3 linked regions of the Homo sapiens genome follow. The protein of the gene in region 3 interacts with the protein of the main gene of each other region in a pairwise test. Each region holds a gene or a part of one and is shown on either strand. Other genes may lie near its edges.

Region 1 (7,603 bases), on a different chromosome or scaffold from region 3:
CCTCAGTCTCCCGAGTAGCACCCCCAGCTATTTTAAAAAAAATTTTTGTAGAGATGGGTTCTCATCATGTCGCCCAGGCTGTTGAACTTCTGGCCTCCAAAGGTGGGAGTTATTCTAGCAGCTTCCCTGTGATCTTCTCATATCTACTGGTGGAGTGGGAAAGAGTAGTTCAAACAACTCAGACAGAAAATCTCGCTGGTGCAACAGTGGAGAGAAGGGCCAAGTACTTGTCCTGTTACTTCCAGTTTTTCTAGATATATGAGCAGCAGGACTCCTCTCTTTATAAAAAGAACTATGAGTTTCCTGGCTCTAATGAAGAGTGACCAGGCATTCAGGAGCTCAAATGCCCAGATACATATAACCAACCAATTCTCCTAGAATGCATTGCTAAAAACGAATTTTGCTTATATGCTTCAAAGACCTCATTTATAGTTATACTTAAAACAGTGCATAGGAATCAAGCTGTATCAGCCAATTTTATATGAAAGAACTATAGGTTGTAAGTAACTTAGAATATAATTTTTTATCTAGCGGGGGTTAAAGGACACTTAGAAAATAGAGACACAAGAGATGGCCCAGCCTTACAGAATGGATTCTCCTGAAAACGCTTACAATAAAAACCAAATAACAGTATTTTTTTTTTATTTAGGCAATAGTATGGGAGGGAAAAGGGACATAGGACATTTTATCTTACAAACACATTGTTCTCTTTATCTTTCTGTTTCAAGTTCTACCACCACTCCTGGGTCCACTGATTAATCTAACAACATGGCCTCTCAGTCCCTAAGTCTTTACCTCTACTCCTGTTTTTCAGTCATTAATGCCCTGGCTACATATTGTACTTTTTCCCCACCAAGAAACTGTTCTATGATATAATAATTTCAGCTATCTCCCTCTGAGTGCACAATTGTCTATGCCTATAACCTTCTCATTCTGCTGTTTCTATCACATCTTGTCTTTGACCTTATCAGAGCTCCATTCCATGGTGCTGTTACTACCTATCAAACGCTCCTGTTTTAATTTCCTTCCTATTCAGCTGATTTCCTGGTTTACCACTCCCAGTTGCTCTCATGCCCATATTCTCAATTCCCTTGTTCAATTTTCCTTCACTAAAACCACCTGATGAAACTCCAGCCCAGATGAATATAGTCCTCCTCCTCTCTTACACATGGGGTGCTGCACTCTATAAGACCAAACTTACAAAATTAGCAATACCACTGCCACTATAAATGTATAATATTCAAACCTAATTGGGCTTCTGAGACCAAGAACTCCTTTTATAATTTTTCTAACGAGCTTTCTCTTCTACGCTCCACAACAACTATTTTAAACCTACGTATCTTACTTTAAACTTCTTACCCTACCACTTAGATACCCCCTTTTATCCGATGAACTTGCCTGATACCTTATTGAGAAAATAGAATCCATCAGCTAGAAATTCATTTTCCTGTCCCCTACTCCACAGCTTTAACAGCATCTGTATCTATACTTTTCACCTGCTGAGGTCCGTCCCACTGGTCTAAATCCAAACACTTCATACATTGCCTGGATCCCATCTTTAACAACCTTTCTAGGGGACTTGCATTATCCCTTCTGTATCTTAATTTTCTCCTTCCCTACTGAACATTACACATTGGCATTTTAAATATATTCAAGTTTCTCTAGTCTTTAAAATACTCTCTGAGTCTGAATTCTTCTCCAGATACCAATGTATTTCTTATTCCTTTTACAGCCTTTTCATTCTTTACAAATTTCTTGAGAGCCTGGATGCAGTGAGCCAGTGAGCCTGGGTGACAGACTGAGACCCTGTCTCAAAAAAAAAATTGTTGAAAGAGCGGTTTACCTCATTTTTGCTTCCTCATCCGCCTCACTTTGCACCGAAGTACAATCTAATTTTCATCACAACCATTCTACTGAAACTGCTATTGCAAATGTTATCAAAGATTTCCATATAAGTTAAGATTATACTGTGGAACCAATGTGATGCAATGACACAGTGGCTTGTAAACATGTCTCTCTTTTTCACATGACAGTACCAATGTAAAAATTATTAGGTAGGTAGGGCAGCTTTCATCCTCACAGTCCTTCTGAAACCAAATTTTCTTTCAAGTAATTTCTTCAACATTCCCTATGGCAATATAATCTGCATGGCTGTAGCTGGGTCACTGTCACATCTGGGTTCTAGCTCGCTTGGAAGAAAGAGGCATATCCAGATGATTTCTGTTCTATAACTGGAAGGGGAAGACAGAAATTCTGCTCACAATCCATCTGTGAGAACTTAATTCACTTGGCCACACTCAAATACAAGGGAGGCTGGGATGGGCAATCTACCTTCATGGCCACATACCTGGGCACAGTTCTATTACTATAGAAGCAAAGGAAAACAGATTTTGTCAGACATCTATCAGAATCCTCCACAATGACCATCTTTTTAAGCCCACTGGATAATTGTCATACTTATTTTTCTTGATTTTTCTGAAGCATTTGCAGCCATTGATCTTCCTTATCTCCTTAAAATGCTATTTGCTTTTGATTTCATGATTTTGAACTCTGAGCCTTCTTTATCTTTTCAAATATACTTCTTGCCCTGTCTCCTCTAAATGAAGATGTTTCTCAGAGTTCTGTGCCAAGCCTCTTTTATACTTATTTGACACACTTTTGCTTGGTTATCCTAGAGCATTCATGGTGTGTATATATATATATATATATATATATATGGTGATTGAAACCATGAATGCTATATATATATATATGCTATATATATGCTCTCTGTATATATGCTATATATATGCTCTCTCTCTATATATATGCTATATATATGCTCTCTCTCTCTGTCTCTCTCTGTCTCTCTCTATATATATACATATATACACACCACAGTTCATATTGCCAGCTCAGATTTATTTCCTATGCTTTGGTTATATGCAAACACACACACACACACCCCACCACCACGCAAACACACATCCTACAGGCACTTACCTCAATATCAGCATGTTCAAAACTGAACACTTCATCTTTTTCCACCCCAATCATGTTTTTTTTTAGCATTCCCTGTCCTAGTGAATGACACCACTAGTCATCCAGATGCCCAGTCCAGAGGTGTGATATCATCTCTGAGTCTTTCCCATTTTTCTCCCCATGCAACCTATCAACCAACAGTTGAAAACATTTCATCTCCTCATACCTTTCTATTCATCCCTCTTCTCTCCATCCACACTGGCATTATCCTCATCCAGATCATCATCTCTTATCTGATCTCCTTGATTCTCCAGTCACTCCCCCTGAAATTAATTCTCCATACTGCAGCCAAACTGATTTTTTAAAATGCAGATGTAATCATGTTAATCAGATATTTAAAACCCATCTTTGTACTTGAATTACCTTTAGGATAAATTCAAGAATGCATGATATGACCTGTATAATGATTCATGTTCTCACCATGCTTTTAACCCTAATTTCATTGTTAGACCCTCCCCTTCCATAGTTTTTAAAGTCCAAGGCATACTTCATTTCTCTGTGTTCCTCAAAATGCCCATCTGAAATATTCCTCCTTCTCCTGGCTAGTTCCTTCAGATCACAATGTATTTTTCATTACCTCAGGAAAGCTTTCACTGATGTCCCAAGTCCGACTTTGATCTTAATTATTTTATTTTTGACAGACACTTAACCAGCACTTACAAACCACTTTGTAAATATTAATTCATTAGATGCCTACGATAATAATCATAGGAGACAAATATTATTACCCCATTTTACAGGTGAGGAAACAAAGGTATCTATAACTTGCCCAAGCTTATAGATAGTAAGTCACATAACCAGGATTCTAATATTGATAATTTGGTTCCAGATCCCATATTCCCAAGCACTAAGGTATGCAGCCTCCTAGGTACAAGAAGTCTTTTCTAGGTATTTCTATATTACTTTTTATAAATGCATACATTATGACATACTTCGTTTACTTGTCTGCCAATTTTTCTAGCTTGTGAGCTCTGTAAGAGCAAGAATTATCTCTAACTTATTTGTGCCATGTCCTTCTTTATATTTTTAAAATATAAAAGTGAAAAAAGTAATGATATTACCAACTATAGCTGACAACAAGTATTTACAAGAGTGAAGGAGATAATATATTTGTAATTACTCGAGAAATGACTTAAATAAAAAATTATTTCTTCAGTTCAGAATATTTTAACAGATCCTTTAGTGCCGAGCATTCAAAACAGTGATAATGCAGTGTATGGACTTTTCTGGATTCAAATTCAAACAAACCAACAGCAAAGGACATTTTGGAGAGAACTGGGGAAAACCAAATGCAGTATAAATTACACCAAGGAATTATTGCTCAAGTTGTTGATTGTGAACGTTTTATTACAATTATCTTTTAGAAGGCCTTACCTATTAAAAATACTTAGTGAAGTATTTAAAGGAAAAAAAATGATGTCTGGGATTTGTTTCGAATGTTCCGGATGTATTTATGAATTACTTTTTCAAAGAGGAAAACTTTTTTAATGAAAAAAAAAACATGGAGACACATGGTGGCGCTACAGGATAAGACGAAAACAGTACATAGGCTGGCACGGTGAGCTTCGCTATTCAGGAGAACAGAAAGCATCCAACCCACTGAAAAGACAGGCATTAAAGGAGCTTCGCCTACAGAGCTGCTGGAGGATACACTCTCCAGGGGGTTCCTGTTAAAAACCAGAGCTTCAGCTTCCAAAATTACGGCTGAGCTTCAGTTTTTCCACAAGAGATTGCCTAAAGGAACCATGGAGATCAGAGGGGCACTCGATCTGCGAAAAAGGCAAGTTCTAATATTCCTTGTTTTGCTGGGATTGTCTCGGGCAGGTACTGAATCTGCACACTATTCTGTGGCAGAGGAAACAGAAATTGGCTCTTTTGTGGCTAATCTAGCGAGGGACCTAGGGCTGGGGGTGGAGGAGCTGTCTTCACGTGAAGCCCGGGTAGTGTCTGATGATAATAAAAAGTATTTGCACCTTGATTTGCTGACTGGGAATTTGCTCCTAAATGAGAAACTAGACCGAGACGAGCTGTGTGGCTCCACCGAGCCCTGTGTGCTGCATTTTCAGGTGGTTTTGGAAAACCCTTTACAGTTTTTTCGGTTTGAGCTGTGTGTCAAAGACATAAATGATCACTCCCCTACATTTCTAGACAAGGAAATACTTATTAAAATATCAGAAGGTACCACTGTTGGAGCTACCTTTCTAATGGAGAGTGCTCAAGATTTGGATGTCGGAAGCAACAGTCTCCAAAACTACACAATTAGCCCCAATTCTCACTTCTACATTAAAATTCCCGACAGTAGTGACAGAAAGATATACCCAGAGCTGGTCCTAGATAGAGCTTTAGATTATGAACAGGAAGCTGAACTCAGATTAACACTCACAGCAGTGGATGGTGGATCCCCGCCCAAGTCTGGGACAACTTTGGTTCTCATCAAGGTGTTGGACATCAATGATAATGCCCCTGAGTTTCCTCAGAGTCTCTATGAGGTGCAAGTCCCCGAGGACAGACCCCTTGGCTCCTGGATTGCCACCATCTCAGCTAAGGATCTGGATGCAGGAAACTATGGAAAAATATCTTACACATTTTTCCATGCATCAGAAGATATTCGTAAAACATTTGAAATTAATCCAATATCTGGGGAAGTTAATTTGAGATCACCCCTGGATTTTGAAGTAATACAGTCCTACACTATAAATATTCAGGCAACAGATGGTGGGGGTCTTTCAGGAAAATGCACCCTTCTAGTTAAAGTTATGGATATAAACGACAACCCACCAGAAGTGACCATATCGTCGATTACAAAGAGAATTCCAGAGAATGCCTCAGAGACCCTAGTAGCTCTTTTTAGTATCCTAGACCAAGACTCTGGAGACAATGGGAGGATGATTTGCTCTATTCAAGATAACCTCCCTTTTTTCCTGAAACCGACCTTCAAGAACTTTTTCACTCTAGTTTCTGAAAAAGCACTGGACAGAGAGAGCCAAGCCGAGTACAACATCACGATCACCGTCACAGACTTGGGGACACCCAGGCTGAAAACCGAGTACAACATAACCGTGCTGCTCTCTGACGTCAATGACAACGCCCCCACCTTCACCCAAACCTCCTACACCCTGTTCGTCCGCGAGAACAACAGCCCCGCCCTGCACATCGGCAGCGTCAGCGCCACAGACAGAGACTCAGGCACCAACGCCCAGGTCAACTACTCGCTGCTGCCGCCCCAGGACCGGCACCTGCCCCTCGCCTCCTTGGTCTCCATCAACGCGGACAATGGCCACCTGTTTGCCCTCAGGTCGCTGGACTACGAGGCCCTACAGGAGTTCGAGTTTCGCGTGGGCGCCACAGACCGCGGGTCCCCGGCGTTGAGCAGCGAGGCGCTGGTGCGCGTGCTGGTGCTGGACGCCAACGACAACTCGCCCTTCGTGCTGTACCCGCTGCAGAACGGCTCCGCGCCCTGCACCGAGCTGGTGCCCCGGGCGGCCGAGCCGGGCTACCTGGTGACCAAGGTGGTGGCGGTGGACGGCGACTCGGGCCAGAACGCCTGGCTGTCGTACCAGCTGCTCAAGGCCACGGAGCCCGGGCTGTTCGGCGTGTGGGCGCACAATGGCGAGGTGCGCACCGCCAGGCTGCTGAGCGAGCGCGACGCGGCCAAGCACAGGCTGGTGGTGCTGGTCAAGGACAATGGCGAGCCTCCTCGCTCGGCCACCGCCACGCTGCACGTGCTCCTGGTGGACGGCTTCTCCCAGCCCTACCTGCCGCTCCCTGAGGCGGCCCCGGCCCAGGCCCAGGCCGACTCCCTCACCGTCTACCTGGTGGTGGCATTGGCCTCGGTGTCGTCGCTCTTCCTCTTCTCGGTGCTCCTGTTCGTGGCGGTGCGGCTGTGCAGGAGGAGCAGGGCGGCCTCGGTGGGTCGCTGCTCGGTGCCCGAGGGTCCCTTTCCAGGGCATCTGGTGGACGTGAGCGGCACCGGGACCCTGTCCCAGAGCTACCAATACGAGGTGTGTCTGACAGGAGGTTCCGGGACAAATGAGTTCAAATTTCTGAAGCCGATTATCCCCAATTTTCAAGTTCATGACACTGGTAGGAATATGGGGGAAATCGAGAACTTTCGAAATAGCTTTGGACTTAACATTCAATAAAACAATTTATTTTAAATGTCTAATTTTTGGTTATTCTTGGCAAGCTGATGGTACTTTTTGCATAATCTTTTGTGGATTCTTGGTTGTACTGTAGTTGCATGCATGATTATAGCTCTTGTTTTTCTCACAGTTTCTTTAAAAATCTTTATTAGTGGCTATAATGACGTGGAAATGTAATCTGTGTTTTCTGGTTTTTCATTTATTTGGCCAAAATGTTATATTAATGGAGTTATTGCTATTTTTGCTGTGATAATGGTATTATGCAAGACCATATTCTCAATTATTTGGATATGCAAACTAAAGTATTAAGAGCTAATGTCATTATATATGTAACTTAAATCTAGACACCATCAAAGCATAAAATAAAAATAAAAAGCGTTGCTGAATCTGGGTCGAAAATGTAGTGCGTTTATCCCACTATTCTCTCTGAAAATGTTCTT
Region 2 (7,029 bases), on a different chromosome or scaffold from region 3:
ATTCACAGTTTTGGCTGGACTCAGTGGCTCACGCCTGTAATCCCAACACTCTTGGAGGCTGAGGCCTCACAGAGGATTGCTCAAGCCCAGGAATTTGGGACCAGCCTAGGCAACACAGTGGGATCTTGTCTCTACAAAAAATTTTAAAACTTAGCCGGGCATGATGGTGTGTGCCTGTAGTTCCAGCTACTCTAGAGGCTGAGGTGGGAGGGTGAGCCTGGAAGTTTGAGTCATGATTGCATGATTGTACCACTGCACTCCAGTCTGGGTCATAGAGCAAGTCTCTGTCTCAAAAAAAAAAAAAAAAAAGGACTCACAACTCACAGTTTTGAAAATGTGGCCCTTCGCCAGGCACAGTGGCTCATGCCTATAATCCTAGCACTTTGGGAGGACAAGGCAGGTGGATCATCTGAGGTCAGGTGTTTGAGACCAGCCTGGCCAACACGGGTGAAATCCCATCTCTACTAAAAAAAAAACAAAAATTAGCCAAGTGTGGTGGCGTGCCCCTGTAGTCCCAGGTACTCAGGAGGCTGAGACAGGAGAATCGCTTGAACCAGGGAGGCAGAGGTTGCTGTGAGCCGAGATCGCACCATTGCTCTCCAGCCTGGGCGACAAGAGCAAAACTCCATCAAGAAAAGAAAAGAGGCAAGACAAGAAAGAAAATGTGGCCCTAGAAAGCCTTCCCTGACCCACCCTCACCCCAGGAGTCTTGCCCTCTGACTTCCTGCATCCAGCTTCCAGCTACCCACATCTGTGGAGCTCCATACCCCACTGCTGTGGCTCTCCACCTCCCACCGCCTCGTGAACCCAGAGCCAGGTTTAGACTCAACTCTCTGCCTGGACTGCCATGGAGGCAGCAGCTCCCTGAATGCAGCTCCCCGAATGCCTTCCCGGGGTCCCCAGTGCATTTGTTTCCTGTGGCTGCCATGACAAGGTACCGCAAACTGGGTGGTTTAAAACGAGAAACGTGGCTAGGCACGGTGGCTCACACCTGTAATCCTAGCACTTTGGGAGGCCGAGACAGGCGGATCACCTGAGGTAAGGAGTTCAAGACCAGCCTGGCCAACACTGTGAAACCCCGTCTCTACTAAAAATACAAAAATTAGCTGGGCATGGTGGCATGCGCCTGTAATCCCAGTTACCCGGGAGACTGAGGCAGGAGAATCACTGGAATCCGGGAGGCAGAGGCTGCAGCGAGCCGAGATCGTGCCACTGTACTCCAGCCTGGGCAACAGAGCAAGACTCCATTTCAAAAAAAAAAAAAAAACAGAGAGAGAGAAACGTATTGTCTCCCAGATTCACCAGGCTGAAAATCCGAAATCAAGGCATGGGCGTGGCCTCACTCCGGACAAGGCTCCAGCGGGTGATCTTTCCTGGCTTCTTCCAGCTTCTGATAGCACAGGGCCTTCCTGGGCTTGTGGCTGCGTCACCCCCGTCTCCACTTCTGTCACCATAGAATTGTCTTCCCTGTGTGTCTCCTCTTCTTATAAAGACACCGGGAATGAGGAATGACGGGTCCACCCTACACTGGTATGGCTACCTCTCAACGAATTCCCTCTCCAAGGACCCTATTTCCAAATAAGGTCACATTCTGAAGCACTGGGGGATCAGGACTTCAGCCTCTCTTTTTGGGGGAAACAGTTCAACCTGTTGGTCACTTTACACTCACGTATCTTTTTTTGATTGTGTTTTTTTTGTTGTTGTTCTTATTTTTTTAATTTAATTTTTTTTTGAGGCAGAGTCTCACGCTGTCCCCCAGGCTGGAATGCAGTGGCGCAGTCTCAGCTCACTGCAAGCTCAGCCTCCCGGGTTCATGCCATTCTCCTGCCTCAGCCTCCCGAGTAGCTGGGACTTCAGGCGCCTGCCACCACTCCCGGCTAATTTTTTGTATTTTTAGTAGAGACGGGGTTTCACCATGTTAGTCAGGATGGTCTCAATCTCCTGACCTCGTGATCCACCTGCCTCGGCCTCCCAAAGTGCTGGGATTACAGGAATGAGCCACTGCGCCCGGCCTTTTTTTTAATTTTTTTGAGACAGAGTCTCACTCTGTCGCCCAGGCTGGAGTGCAGTGGTGAGATCTCGGTTCCCTGCAATCTGTGCCTCCTAGGCTCAAGAGATTCTCCTGCCTCAGCCTCCCGAGTAGCTAGGATTACAGGCACATGGCACAACACCCAGCTATTTTTTTTTTTTTTGAATTTTTAATAGAGACAGGGTTCCACCATGTTGGCCAGGCTGGTCTCGAACTCCTGACCTCAGATGATCCACCTGTCTCAGCCTCCCAAAGTGTTGGGATTACAGGCGTGAGCCACTGCACCCAGCCTTACATTCACCACATCTTACCTGACCCCACACCCCCAAGTGAGAACCTGGGCCAGAGACTTGGGTTTCACCTAGACATCTTCCTTTCCCTCGCTAGCGCGACACTCACCATGCTTTCCATATATTCTCTCAAATGTCTCTCCGTGTCCCCCTTGACACTGTCCCTGTCTTAGTTTAGTCTCCCCTCGCTTTCCTAATCCTTTTCTTACCCCTGCTCATGACTTTTTTTGACTCTACCCAGTAGTCTTGCTCCCTCCCACCCACCCTCCACACAGCAGGCAGAGGGGCCTTTTTTTTCTCTCTCTCTTCTTTTGAGACAGGGTCTTACTCTGTTGCCCAAGCTGGAGAGCAGTGGCCTGATCATAGCTCACTGCAGCCTGCAACTCCTGGGCTCAAGCGATCCTCCCGCCTCAGCCTCCCAAGTAGCTGGGACTACAGGCATGTATTTTTTTTTTTTTTTTTTTTGAGACGGAGTCTCACTCTGTCGTCCAGGTGGAGTGCAGTGGTGCAATCTCAGCTCACTGCAACCTCTGCCTCCCGGGGTTAAGCGATTCTCGTGCCTCAGCCTCCCGAGTAGCTGGGATTACAGGCATGCACCACCATGCCCAGCTAGTTTTTGTATTTTCAGTAGAGATGGGGTTTCACTGTGTTGGCCAGGCTTGTCTCGAACCCCTGACCTCAGGTAATCCGCCCGCCTTGGCTTCCCAAAGTGCTGGGATTACAGGCGTGAGCTCCACCGCGCCCGGCCCAGGCTACGGATTTTAGCTTTTATGTTCATTGTACCAGGAACTGTGTAAGTGCTCATGTATATTTATTGAGTCGATGAATGAAGCACCAATTGTCGAATGACCTTGAGGACTCCTGCAGGATGCTAACGAACACACTTCTCAGCCGGACTGAGCTCCATCATCCTGCCATGCGGCTCACCCCACCTGCGTTCTGGCTTCATTCCTGTCTCCATGCACTTGCTTAAAGTCGTGCCGGCGTCAGGATCTCCCTTCCTACCAGCCAGGAAGCTCTTCCCTCTTATTTTCCCCGCTCCTCGAGGTAAAGGTGCGCACAGAGGGGCCCCCAAGGCGTGACTGGAAGGCTTGTGGGTCGCTATGGTTACTGCATCCGCCCGGGGCGGGACATCCCCAGGACGCCCAGCCTCTAGGGGTGCGAGGTGGGAAGCTCTGGAGCGGCCCAGCGCAGGGGCGGGCAAGCCAGGAGGCAAAGCGGTTTCCTCACGCCTCCACCCCACCCACACAGTTGTCAAGGAGACAAAGCGCTTCCCTTCAGCGCTGTCTCCCTCCCCTTTGGTTAGAGGGCAGGGTGGGCTGGAAGACTGTCCGAAAGGTTGGGTACTGGCGCGCTCCCAGCATCTCTCCCATCCAAGCTCGCAACGCCTGCGCCGAGACCCGGTACCGGGTACAACCCGAGGCACGCGCATGCGCGCGATGGAGTTTTTGCGCGTGCGCCGTTGTGGCCCCAGGAAGCTGGGGTACCCGCGCGGCGCTAACGTTGCGGCTGCGCAGTTGCGGCCTGCTGGTGGGGCTCGGCGGAGCGCAGTTCTGCGCCTGCGCTGTGCTGGGGTAGGTGGGAATGAAACCCTGGCGGTAAGGGCATTGGGGCCGACTGGCCCTGGGCGCGCCTGCGCCTTGGCATGCGGGGCGGCCGGAGGCGGGGCCGAAAGAGGGGAGGGAGGGAGGCGGGGGGTGGGAACAGGCCGCAGAAGCCCGAGCCCTGACCCACCGGCGGCTGCGGCGGAGCCGGTGAGTGACCCGTGGCCCGACTCGGTCCCCACCCTCCGCGACCTTCGCTCTCCCTGCCGTCCCCCGTAGCCTCCGTTGTCTCCTTGTGATACGGGACCCCCGTTATTTCCAGAGCTCCCCTTAATTTCTGGCAATCCCCAGAGCCCCCACAATCCTCGCAGACCCTGATCCCTAATATTTGATCGTTCCAGCTCTTCCAGTGATACAGGAGCTCCCACCTCACCATTATTCCTGGACATCCCTCTAAGGGCCCTTCTCATATCGGTCTTACAGACGCCCCGTTGCCCCCTAGAGCCCCTAGAGCGCCTCCTCTGCTCCAGATTCCCCCCTTCTTGCTGCATCCCCCCTTCCGCATCTCCTTATCTTCATGCATCTAAGACCCCCCCGAGGCACCCCCATCCTCCCTCCATTTCCTATCCTCCCGTGCCCCCATTCTCTAACTCCTGCAGACACCTCCTCTCCTCGCACTTTTCCTCCTTTCCTTCCATCCCTCCAGACCCTCCCCCAATTTCTATCAACTCTTCAGCGTGGCACTTCGCGCCGCGCGAAGTCCGAGCCAAGCGCTCAGCCGGTGTCAGCTACTCTTAGGCGCTTCCGACTTACCCGGGTGCCCGTCGCCCCCGCCCGCCCCCCGCCCCCACTCCTGCCCCCGGGGACTAAGGAGCTCTCGGCCCGGCGGTCTGGGAGAGGCGGCGGCGGGGGGACCCCGAACCCCAGCCAGCCCCGTGCGCCCTTTGCCCGCAGCGCCGGCGCCCCCCATGCGCCAGACGGCAGGACGGCGGCGTCGGGGGGCGCCATGGCCTCGGCGGCGGCGGGCGAAGCGGAGGAAACCACCCGGTTGCGCAAGCCGCGCTTCTCATTCGAAGAGAACCAGATCCTGATCCGCGAGGTGCGCGCCCACTACCCGCAGCTCTACGGCGCGCAGAGCCGTCGGGTGAGCGTGGCAGAGCGGCGGCGCGTGTGGGACGGCATCGCCGCCAAGATCAACGGTATCACCAGCTGGAAGCGCACGGGCCAGGAGGTGCAGAAGCGCTGGAACGACTTCAAGCGCCGCACCAAGGAGAAGCTCGCTCGCGTGCCGCACTCCACGCAGGGCGCCGGGCCCGCCGCGGAGGACGCTTTCTCCGCGGAAGAGGAGACCATTTTTGCCATCCTGGGGCCAGGTGTGGCGGCGCCGGGGGCAGGTGCTGGGGCGGAGGAGCCCCCTGCGGCCCCCTCTTCACAGCCGCCGCCCCCAAGCGCCTGCCCTCAGCGCTACGTGTTGTCGGAAGACCGCCGGGAGGACCGACGTGCAGGTGAGTGTCTTCAGAGTAGGCTGTGTGCCTGCGCTGTTGCAAGCCTTTTACATGTCTCATCAAAGCCTTGCTGCAGCCCTGTGAGGTGGATGCTGTCCTTCGCCCCATTTTATAGCTAGGGAAACTGAAGCTCAGAAAAATGAAATGACTTGCCTCAGTTCCGATAGCTAGTAACTGTCAAGAGCCAGGAATGGAACCAGATTTAGGAGGCCTGACTCAGGTCCACACCTGGGGTCATCAGCACAGGCAGGATTTCATTAAATGCAGTGTCGAGTAGTGACTCTGGAGGCAGGCTGCCTGGGCTCCGATCACAACTTTGCCACTGAACTGTGTCATCTGAGTAAGTTACTGTACTTCAGTTGCTGCATCTGTAAAATGGAGATAAAAATAGTCTGCACCTCAAAGCGTTGCTGTGAAGATTAAATGAGCTAATATGGGTAAGTTGCTTAGTTCAGCACCTCCTCAACTCTCATTGTTAGTTCTTGATAGAATCATCAATGCGGTAAGATGCATACTATTTCACTATTTCATAAATAAAAGACTCAGACATGTTTGGTAATTTTCCCAAGGTCATGCCTTGGATAGAGGTGTGGAGAGCTGACTACAGAAACTTCCTGCTTAGCCTTGATTCTGGATTATTTCTTCTACAGCCGTTCCCTGAGCACCTGCCCCATGCTCGATGAGGTTGGGGACACATGGATGACTGAGCCAGTCTAGTAGGGGGGTGGGGAAGACGGTGATGACTTGAGGGAGCAGGGCTGGGGTAGGGGATCCCAGGGACTGTGGGAGCCCAGAGAGGGTTTCTGATTTCGGTGGGGGGGGGGGTGGTCCAGGAGGGCTTCCTGGAGGAGGGGACATCAGAGCTGAGATGCAAAGAGTAAGAATGAAGAACTGGGAAAGTATTTTTGGTAGAGGGAACAGCATGTACAATGGCTTGGAGGCAAGAAAGCTTGGCCAGTTTGGGAAACTAAAAGAAGTTGCGGGGAAAAGAGTGTAGAGTGGAAAGGTTGAAGAAAAGTAACATTTTGAGATGAGTTCAGAGAGGTCAGCAAAGGCCAGACCATACTGGGCCTTTAGGCCAAGGTGAGGAGTTTGGATTTTATCCTGACTGCTATGAGAAGCCACTGAAGAGTTTGGAGAAGGGGAGGAACATGGGCATGATCAAACAAGACAGTTCAAGATTATGTGATTCAGAGAGGTTCATTCACCCACCCAAGGTCACACAGCAAGTAAGTGACAGAGTCAGGACTCAAGCATAAGTGTGCGTCCAACCCCCAGTCCATGGCACTTAACCACTGAGCAAGATTGCCCAGCAATAACAAGAGTTAATATTGACCAGGAGTTAATGAGTGTGCCAGAATTAGATTACACGTGGCTTGGAAGTCAAGGTCAGGAATTTGGACTTACTATTTTTTTTGTTTTGTTTTTTGTTTTGAGACGGAGTCTTGCTCTGTTGCCCAGGCTGGAGTGCAGTGGCGAAATCTTGGCTTGCTGCAACCTCCGCCTCCCCAGGTTCAAGTGATTCTCCTGCCTCAGCCTCCTGAGTAGCTGGGATTACAGGTGCCTGCCACCATGCCCAGGTAATTTTTGTATTTTTAGTAGAGATGGGATTTCACCATGTTGACCAGGCTGGTCTGGAACTCCCGACCTCAGGTGATCCA
Region 3 (7,022 bases):
AGCTTTCAGATAAAATCACAAGAGATTTCCTTGTGTGATACATCTTCAGAGTATTCTGGACATTCTTGAAAGGACAGTAGAGGATTATTCTAAATTACAGCTCAAAACACTTTAGAAGATAGTTTTGTGGTTTACAACATAATGGAGAAAATTTGGATGATCCTTTGATGCTCAGGGAAAACATTTATAATGTAACACAGAATAGACAAATTAAGGTTTGAGGTTTAACACAGAAGGAAAGGCTAACTCATCCAGTAAAATGAGTTCAGGTCTCTAGGCCCCAGACGACTCTAGAAACGTTCAAATGACTTCAAAGCCATTATAAAACATGGTGGGGTGACATGAAATGTGACAGCCTTTCCCCTCTACCTCCCTCCATGACTGACTGTAAAAAGATTAAAAGAAAAATATATGAACAGCTGCCTTTAACATCAAGAAATGGTTAAAGGATGTAGTGATGCTCTGGGGCTTCCAATTAACAACAATCCCTTGGAATTCCCTATCAAGTATTCTGAACGGACACTTCCCTTCTCTCCATGGACAAAGGAGGAAGTCTCAAAAATGAGGGTGTAGTTTTTGCTATTTTTACCACAGGCAAAAATTAACATAGGTGAGAATATAGAAATGGGGAACCCAAAAGTTGCTAAAAGCCTGTTTACTCCAACACTAGAAAGATTACCTCTATGGAAATGAAACAATTTTCTCCAGAAGTGAAAGCAGAATATGGGTGTTTCACAGTAACAGTTAAGACTACCAATAAAGTAACTGTAGTTAACAGAAATCAGTCAGCCCAGGAATCTGAGTATAAAGGAAGAATGGGTCAAGTCAAGATCCTCTTTAAGCTCCTGGCTTTAACAGAAAAACCTTTATTCTAAGCTAAGATGCTTCGGCAGCCTGTCCACTGAGGGAAGAGACAGTACTCCTAACCTAGAAAATAAGACTTAATGAAGTTTTCTCCTTAAAATCTAGCAGATCACAGATACAATATTTCTGAAATCACAGGAGTTTTCACTCAGCCTCCAAAACTAACGGACTATGCAGATATATTTTGTAAGCAATCATTTCTTGGGCCAGGAATAAGGGAAATACCAGAATGCAAAGGCTTCCTTTTCTATACTGACACTTGTTTGGGTAACACCTAAACGTCTCGATCCTTTATCAGGGATATTTTCTTAAAGAAGTTAAAGCTTTCTGAAGTTATTTTGGCCATTTAACTGGCTGGGAAATACATATGGCAAGGGAATAAAACTTGCCTACAAGAAATAAGACCTAAAATTAGCACCCAAATCAAAAGCATAATTAACTTTAAATCTCAATGCAGACAGGTAAAGCTATAAAAACCAGTTGGGGAAGTCCCTAAATCTAAGCATACTTCAAATTCCACTCTCAGGGCTGACATGGTCAACACATTAAAACCACACCAACAGACAGAACTGGACACCACTGCCTCAAAAAAAGGGACCATGAAACTAAAATTAGCATGAATAAAACCAAAATTTCCCTGAAAAAATGCTCAGGAAATCAATCAAGCTCTCACAGACTGGATCTCAGCCACATCCTAATACAAAACCTAAAGGGAATACATCAAGTAAAAATACAACACACTTAGCCTTCCAACAAAATAATCCACATCTCCCTATTCTGAGAACAGCAACCACCTTACAAAAACATATTTGAAAGGACTAACCATCCAATCCCTGTATTATTTTAAAAACTGAATGTGGTTTGTTAGATTTAAAATAGTGGCTCATAAACACTGCATCTCTTAAAACACTGTTTATCATACTAGTTAAGTCTGACTTACTTGACTTAGTCAACCTCAGAAGTTACATGCTTCCTACTCATTTTTTTCCCTTGGCAAAGGTTATCTTCCTGAAACACTGTCATCCCCTTCCTTGTTTTGACTCCCCTTAGCATTAATCAGACCTCTGATTAAGGCAGTCTTTCACACACTGCCTGTTCTCAGGAACAGAAGCCGGCCTCCTCCTCATCTTCCCTATGGCCCGAGGAGGAGACACATTAGGACCCACAGATGCTTTGGTCAAGGGGGAAAACAAAAACAAATGGACACAATGGTCCACTAGCAACGTTTTCTCACCTTAAGTCTATCCAGCTTGGGTCATAACCAGATTCCAAATTGCTTTCTTTCCTTTAGTGGGCTGGGGGTTAAGAGGTCTTTTCCTCTTTTGCACCCCAAGGACCTGTCAGGTTTCTTGATAAAAGAATCCATGGGCTTGGAATTAAAATGTAATATTCATTCACACATTTACCTCAGTTTCCTGCCTGCTCTTTGAGTAATTTGGAACATAAAATAACATTTATCATCATTAGTTTATCTATGGCAAGAAATTTGACAAAGGAATGCAAAACTTCTTAAGAGAAAATTTTCTTCTGCTTGCAAGATATAGAAATAAACAGGCCTGAAAGCATCAGAAAATGGATTCTCCAAGAAATGCCATTTAAGTCACTTTCTCCAAGAGCATGAAGACCTGACAACTCTCAGAGAAAGTTTATTTCAGGAAGACATGTGTGACATGATACCCTTGGCATTCTCAACTGGGTAGAAAACCGCTGGCTGACTACTACTGGGTATTATTTTTGATATGTGTACTTGTCTCATTCAACTGAAAGTAACATTACACCAATCACTTGACCCTTCTACTCAGCTAAAACAAAACACACAGAAAAGAAGGGACAGCTTTTGGGTTGAATTTCTCAATAAGTGCAAGGGATACCAGGTAACCAGAATAAAGCTACTTTGTAACCGTTACCTCTAACATTACAATAGCTAAATGTTGATAGCAAAAAAGGAGAAATAGGAATGAAAGCATCTGCCATTACTGCAATTTGTATTAGCTATCCTGTTCACTTGTGTGACCCACCTCTTCTAAGGGGAAGCTACGGTATTTTATCAGTAATCCTAGTCAATCAGCTGAAATAGGCATTAAACAGAAACAGAATTTGAAAAACCATCCCTGTGTATTTAGCAAATATGCATCTTAAATTTAGGGCCCAAATGCTCACAGATTTCCACTAGTGCCATATGGAAAAAACTAACACACTAATGCCAAAGGGAACTATTTTGTTCAATGCTTTGTTTGGATTTTGGGGGTTTGGTTCCATAACCATCCTGGTGACATTCCTTTGAAAATGGTTTAACAGAAAATATTCTACTATACATTGCTCAGTACTGAAGGAAAGGGGACAGTGCAATCTAAGAGTCCAGGGAGGTGGCAAAGACCACCAGTTCCAACCCTGGAGGTATTCGCTCATGCCCCAGGACCAGCAACATTAGACAGGTAAAGTTTATCTAGAGAGGACAACATGAAGCCCACTGTTACCCATGCTGGAGAGCTCACTGCTGCCTGGTGCTTGACTACTAAATATTTTTTAAAAATTGCATTTCAATCATTTAACTAAGCAGTTAAAATCAGAATTACCTAATTTAAACGTTTCCCCTGGAAGGCACTTCTTTACCCTGTATATATTTTCCTCTATTAAACAAATAATGCATGCATGTTTAGCAAAATATACAGGGACACATAAACAGACTAGTAATTACTTAGCGTAGTGCTTTCTGATTCCAGATTACTTCTTATCTTAACTTCATTTTTATTTCTTTTCTTCATTCTTCCGTTTCAAATTCTGACTTCTTTCATCTTCCCCACTTCACACAAATTGCTCAATATTCTACAAGTGGGACTTCTGGTCTGATAATTAGCATGCATTCTTTCTTTTATTTTTTCAAATTTCAGCTTCACTTATTCCTGAGCTTCAAATACTCATTTATAAAACTTGTCAAATGACGACTTCCGCATTTTCCTTCTTCAACATTAACCTTAATAGAAAAAGAACAGGATGAAGAATATTTTAAAACTCCAGGATAAAATCCAGTGCCAAAACTGAAACTAGAAAAAAAAAATCCCTTTGTTGATTTGGATTAAAAAAAAAAAAAAAGAAACTAGAATATGCAGCTCAAAAAACTGAAAACTACATAGTTTTCTGCTGGTTCTAGAATATATGGTAATCTCATTTCTCTACTCCAAATAGACTTATCATGCTTAAGTTGAATGTGAAGTGCGCCACTGAACATTTACTGTTCATTTAACATTTTAAGAACTATTAGTTACATTTCACACTTCTTATTATATTCAATAGAAAATAGGTTAAGTGTCAAAAGCACACCTCTAGTCAAAAAGTGACACATTAATACATAAGTGCATGAAAGGAAAGCACGGACAATTCATTTGTACAATGACAAACGCTCAGGGTTGAAGAGGTTTACAGTATTGTGACTTGTCTAGATAGGATAAAGAAACGTATTTAGCGTCACACATTTTTGTACTGTATTTAAAGAGCTCTGCAGAAAGACGGTGTCAGGGAACCTGACAATTTGGAGCTTAAGTGTAACCCACCCCCTGGAAAAGCTGCTCTAGTGAGATTTTATAGTATGAATCATAAAAAGACAAAATCAAGTCAACCACCTACAATATGCCAGTAGCTATGAAGGAAAGCAGAACAAACTTGAATCCAACACTGGTATTTTCAAAGAGTTTTGTTGTACATTTTCCCCCTCAATTTAGAAAATATTAAGTCTTCTGGATGTCCAAAGGAGAAATACTACTTTAAAAGGTGGCACTATTTAAATTACAGCTCACCTCCTCAAATAATTAAAAAGATTGAATTTAGTTGATCTGTAAATGTCTGTTGAACATACTAAACAAAATAAAATACTGCCTACATAAAACATGCTAGTTTTTCTTGTTATCCTACATTTCACTTTGATGATCTTTCATTTTATTGTCAATTACTTCCTCTCCTGGTTTTTCCTCCTGAAAAAAATGTAAGGCTTTGTTTAAAAAAATTGCAAGTCTTTATACCTATCTGGGCATAAAGACAACCATCGTTAATCTGGCAAGTGCTGTGATGTCTTTCCTAACAAAAGGATAATTTCCAGTCTAGTTTTAGAGTCAATTATTGTTTATTTAATCCGAAAATTTTTAAATATGTTTTTATTTAAGGGAGTTACAGTAATTGGCTTTCTTTAAATCTCCATCACTAAAATGCAATGGGAAATGTTTTCTGGCAGCACAAATGTAATCATGGAATCAGAATGCCCAAGCAGGTTTCCTTAGGGCCTCCTAAAACTTCGATACAGACAGGGCACTTAGATGCAGAAGATACAAGAATAGAGGCCATAGCTCTAGCTATCACAACTGTTTTCAATGTGGATACCTTCCTGCTGTTACTTCATTACCCCTTCCTAACCTGGTTCCTTCTCTTATAGTCTAAGAACAAAACCATTACTAAATTATTATAAATATTAGATTTAATTCAACTCAGCTAAGTTCAAGTGGCTACTTTATAAAACCAGAAGATCAACTCTTGGGCTAATGTTATGTACATTTAGTTAAGAGACCCTAGTTAGAAATAAACAGAAACTTGTCCTATCAACACAATTTTTGTTAAAATGTTTCTAGGGGATACAACTAGAATCCATTTAACATTAAACATGCACAAACTCATTAAGTTGACTGACAAGGCAATATTTTAAAAATTGGGAGGGACAGGGGCAAAGAAAACCTCATTAATCCTGTTATGGAAAGGTCAATGCTCATATCAATATAATAAGGACTATATTTTTTTCTGGCAGCCAAACTGTCTACCAGAAGAGTAAATGGATAAGTAAATCCTCAAAAACTGGAGAATAGTGTCTGGAAAAAAACATCATCTGAAATTAGTTGTAGGCCTGTGCTTATAAAAACTCTCTTGTAAATATAGCACAGACTGTTAAATTTACATTCATAAAACAGTCAGTACTCCCCAACAAAAGCAAATATAAATATCTTTTGACTTTTCAGAAGACTACCTTTTAACCTAATTTCTAACCACAAAAATTAGAGAAAAAGGGGCCCCTTATCCAAACTGTCAGGTAACAATCTATGTTGATAACATCAATCTCAATGTAACCTCCAAAACCCAATTCAAAGCAAAGATTTTGGGGGAATTTCAAGACTGTAATTTGCTACAGTGAAGAACTTCTTTTGGTTTGCAGTTTAAAAACAAGACTAAGTGATTTCAATATCTAATTCTACATAGCCCACACCCCCAATACTAACCTGGGTCAAAACACTTAAAATTCCTAAACATCAGTCACCATGCCTTGTTAAAAAAACAGTCGCATATGTAAAAACACTGATCAACATAAAATGCTAAGGCTCAAGAAATATACACAGCTGTAGCTCTGCCCTTGTCCTGGGCAAAATAGCTATGAAAGCATTAATATTTACCACCTACGTTCGGATTTTATTGTAGAGAAAGGAGGAAAAAACGCTATGTAAGGCAAATCCCATTAACACTTCCCCCACCACCTGAATTCCTTTTCAACCTTTTGGCAAAACCAGTAGTACTTACCTTATAAAATCACCTGTAATGTCAGCTTGAAAATGTCACGTTCTAGTTCCAGACAATATCCACAATATTAAAGCATTCTTGTTTAAAACCAAGAAAAAAATATTTCAACCGGGTTTCAAGAGACTGATAAACCTAACCAGACTCACAATACAAAACAATTTCCTCCTATTTGACAATTCAATCCTTTTTTAAAGGAAATTTGGTGAGATGGCTGCAATTCTTTAGAAAGAAGTAGATTCAGAGATGTTTCAGTTTTGAAAATTAGAATTTAGAGTTTAGGAGCTAAAACCAAGGAATATAAAAAGACATCCCAAGATTCAGCAGAAGATGAGAAAAACTGCAGAATTTGAAAAGCAGTTTGATGGGTTGGTGTCCAGATGCTGCTATTCATCTCTAATGATAAAGATTACGTGCCTATGTTGCAATCACATCGGCTTTACAAAAATAATAGCCAGTATTCTATCAGAGTATCTGCTGGGTCAAAACATTTTCTTTAACATCTGGTCCATACATCAGTGTCTCCTTAGTTTCTGGATTCCTTTAGTAAAGACTCACTCGTAGAAACTCATTACAATATTGAGAGGCTCAGAACATTACACTGCGTGCAA

Evidence for each region. Proteins that work in one complex are often made in the same cells at the same time.
Region 1: the proteins of TRA2B (region 3) and PCDHB14 interact in binary tests that used the Homo sapiens proteins (3 or more experiments, as listed by UniProt).
Region 2: the proteins of TRA2B (region 3) and MYPOP interact in binary tests that used the Homo sapiens proteins (3 or more experiments, as listed by UniProt).

Annotation. Positions count from the first base shown.
Region 1 is NC_000005.10:141,218,740-141,226,342, forward strand, and holds the start of PCDHB14 (protocadherin beta-14 precursor), read left to right. Parts: upstream 1-4,603; 5' UTR 4,604-4,766; coding exon 4,767-7,163; 3' UTR 7,164-7,603. UniProt on the Homo sapiens protein: Potential calcium-dependent cell-adhesion protein. May be involved in the establishment and maintenance of specific neuronal connections in the brain.
Region 2 is NC_000019.10:45,899,614-45,906,642, reverse strand, and holds the start of MYPOP (myb-related transcription factor, partner of profilin), read left to right. Parts: upstream 1-4,029; 5' UTR 4,030-4,073; intron 4,074-4,817; 5' UTR 4,818-4,869; coding exon 4,870-5,368; intron 5,369-7,029. UniProt on the Homo sapiens protein: Transcriptional repressor; DNA-binding protein that specifically recognizes the core sequence 5'-YAAC[GT]G-3'. Dimerization with PFN1 reduces its DNA-binding capacity.
Region 3 is NC_000003.12:185,928,015-185,935,036, forward strand, and holds part of TRA2B (transformer-2 protein homolog beta), read right to left. Parts: intron 3,747-7,022; exon of another isoform or gene 3,563-3,746; intron 1-3,562. UniProt on the Homo sapiens protein: Sequence-specific RNA-binding protein which participates in the control of pre-mRNA splicing. Can either activate or suppress exon inclusion. Acts additively with RBMX to promote exon 7 inclusion of the survival motor neuron SMN2.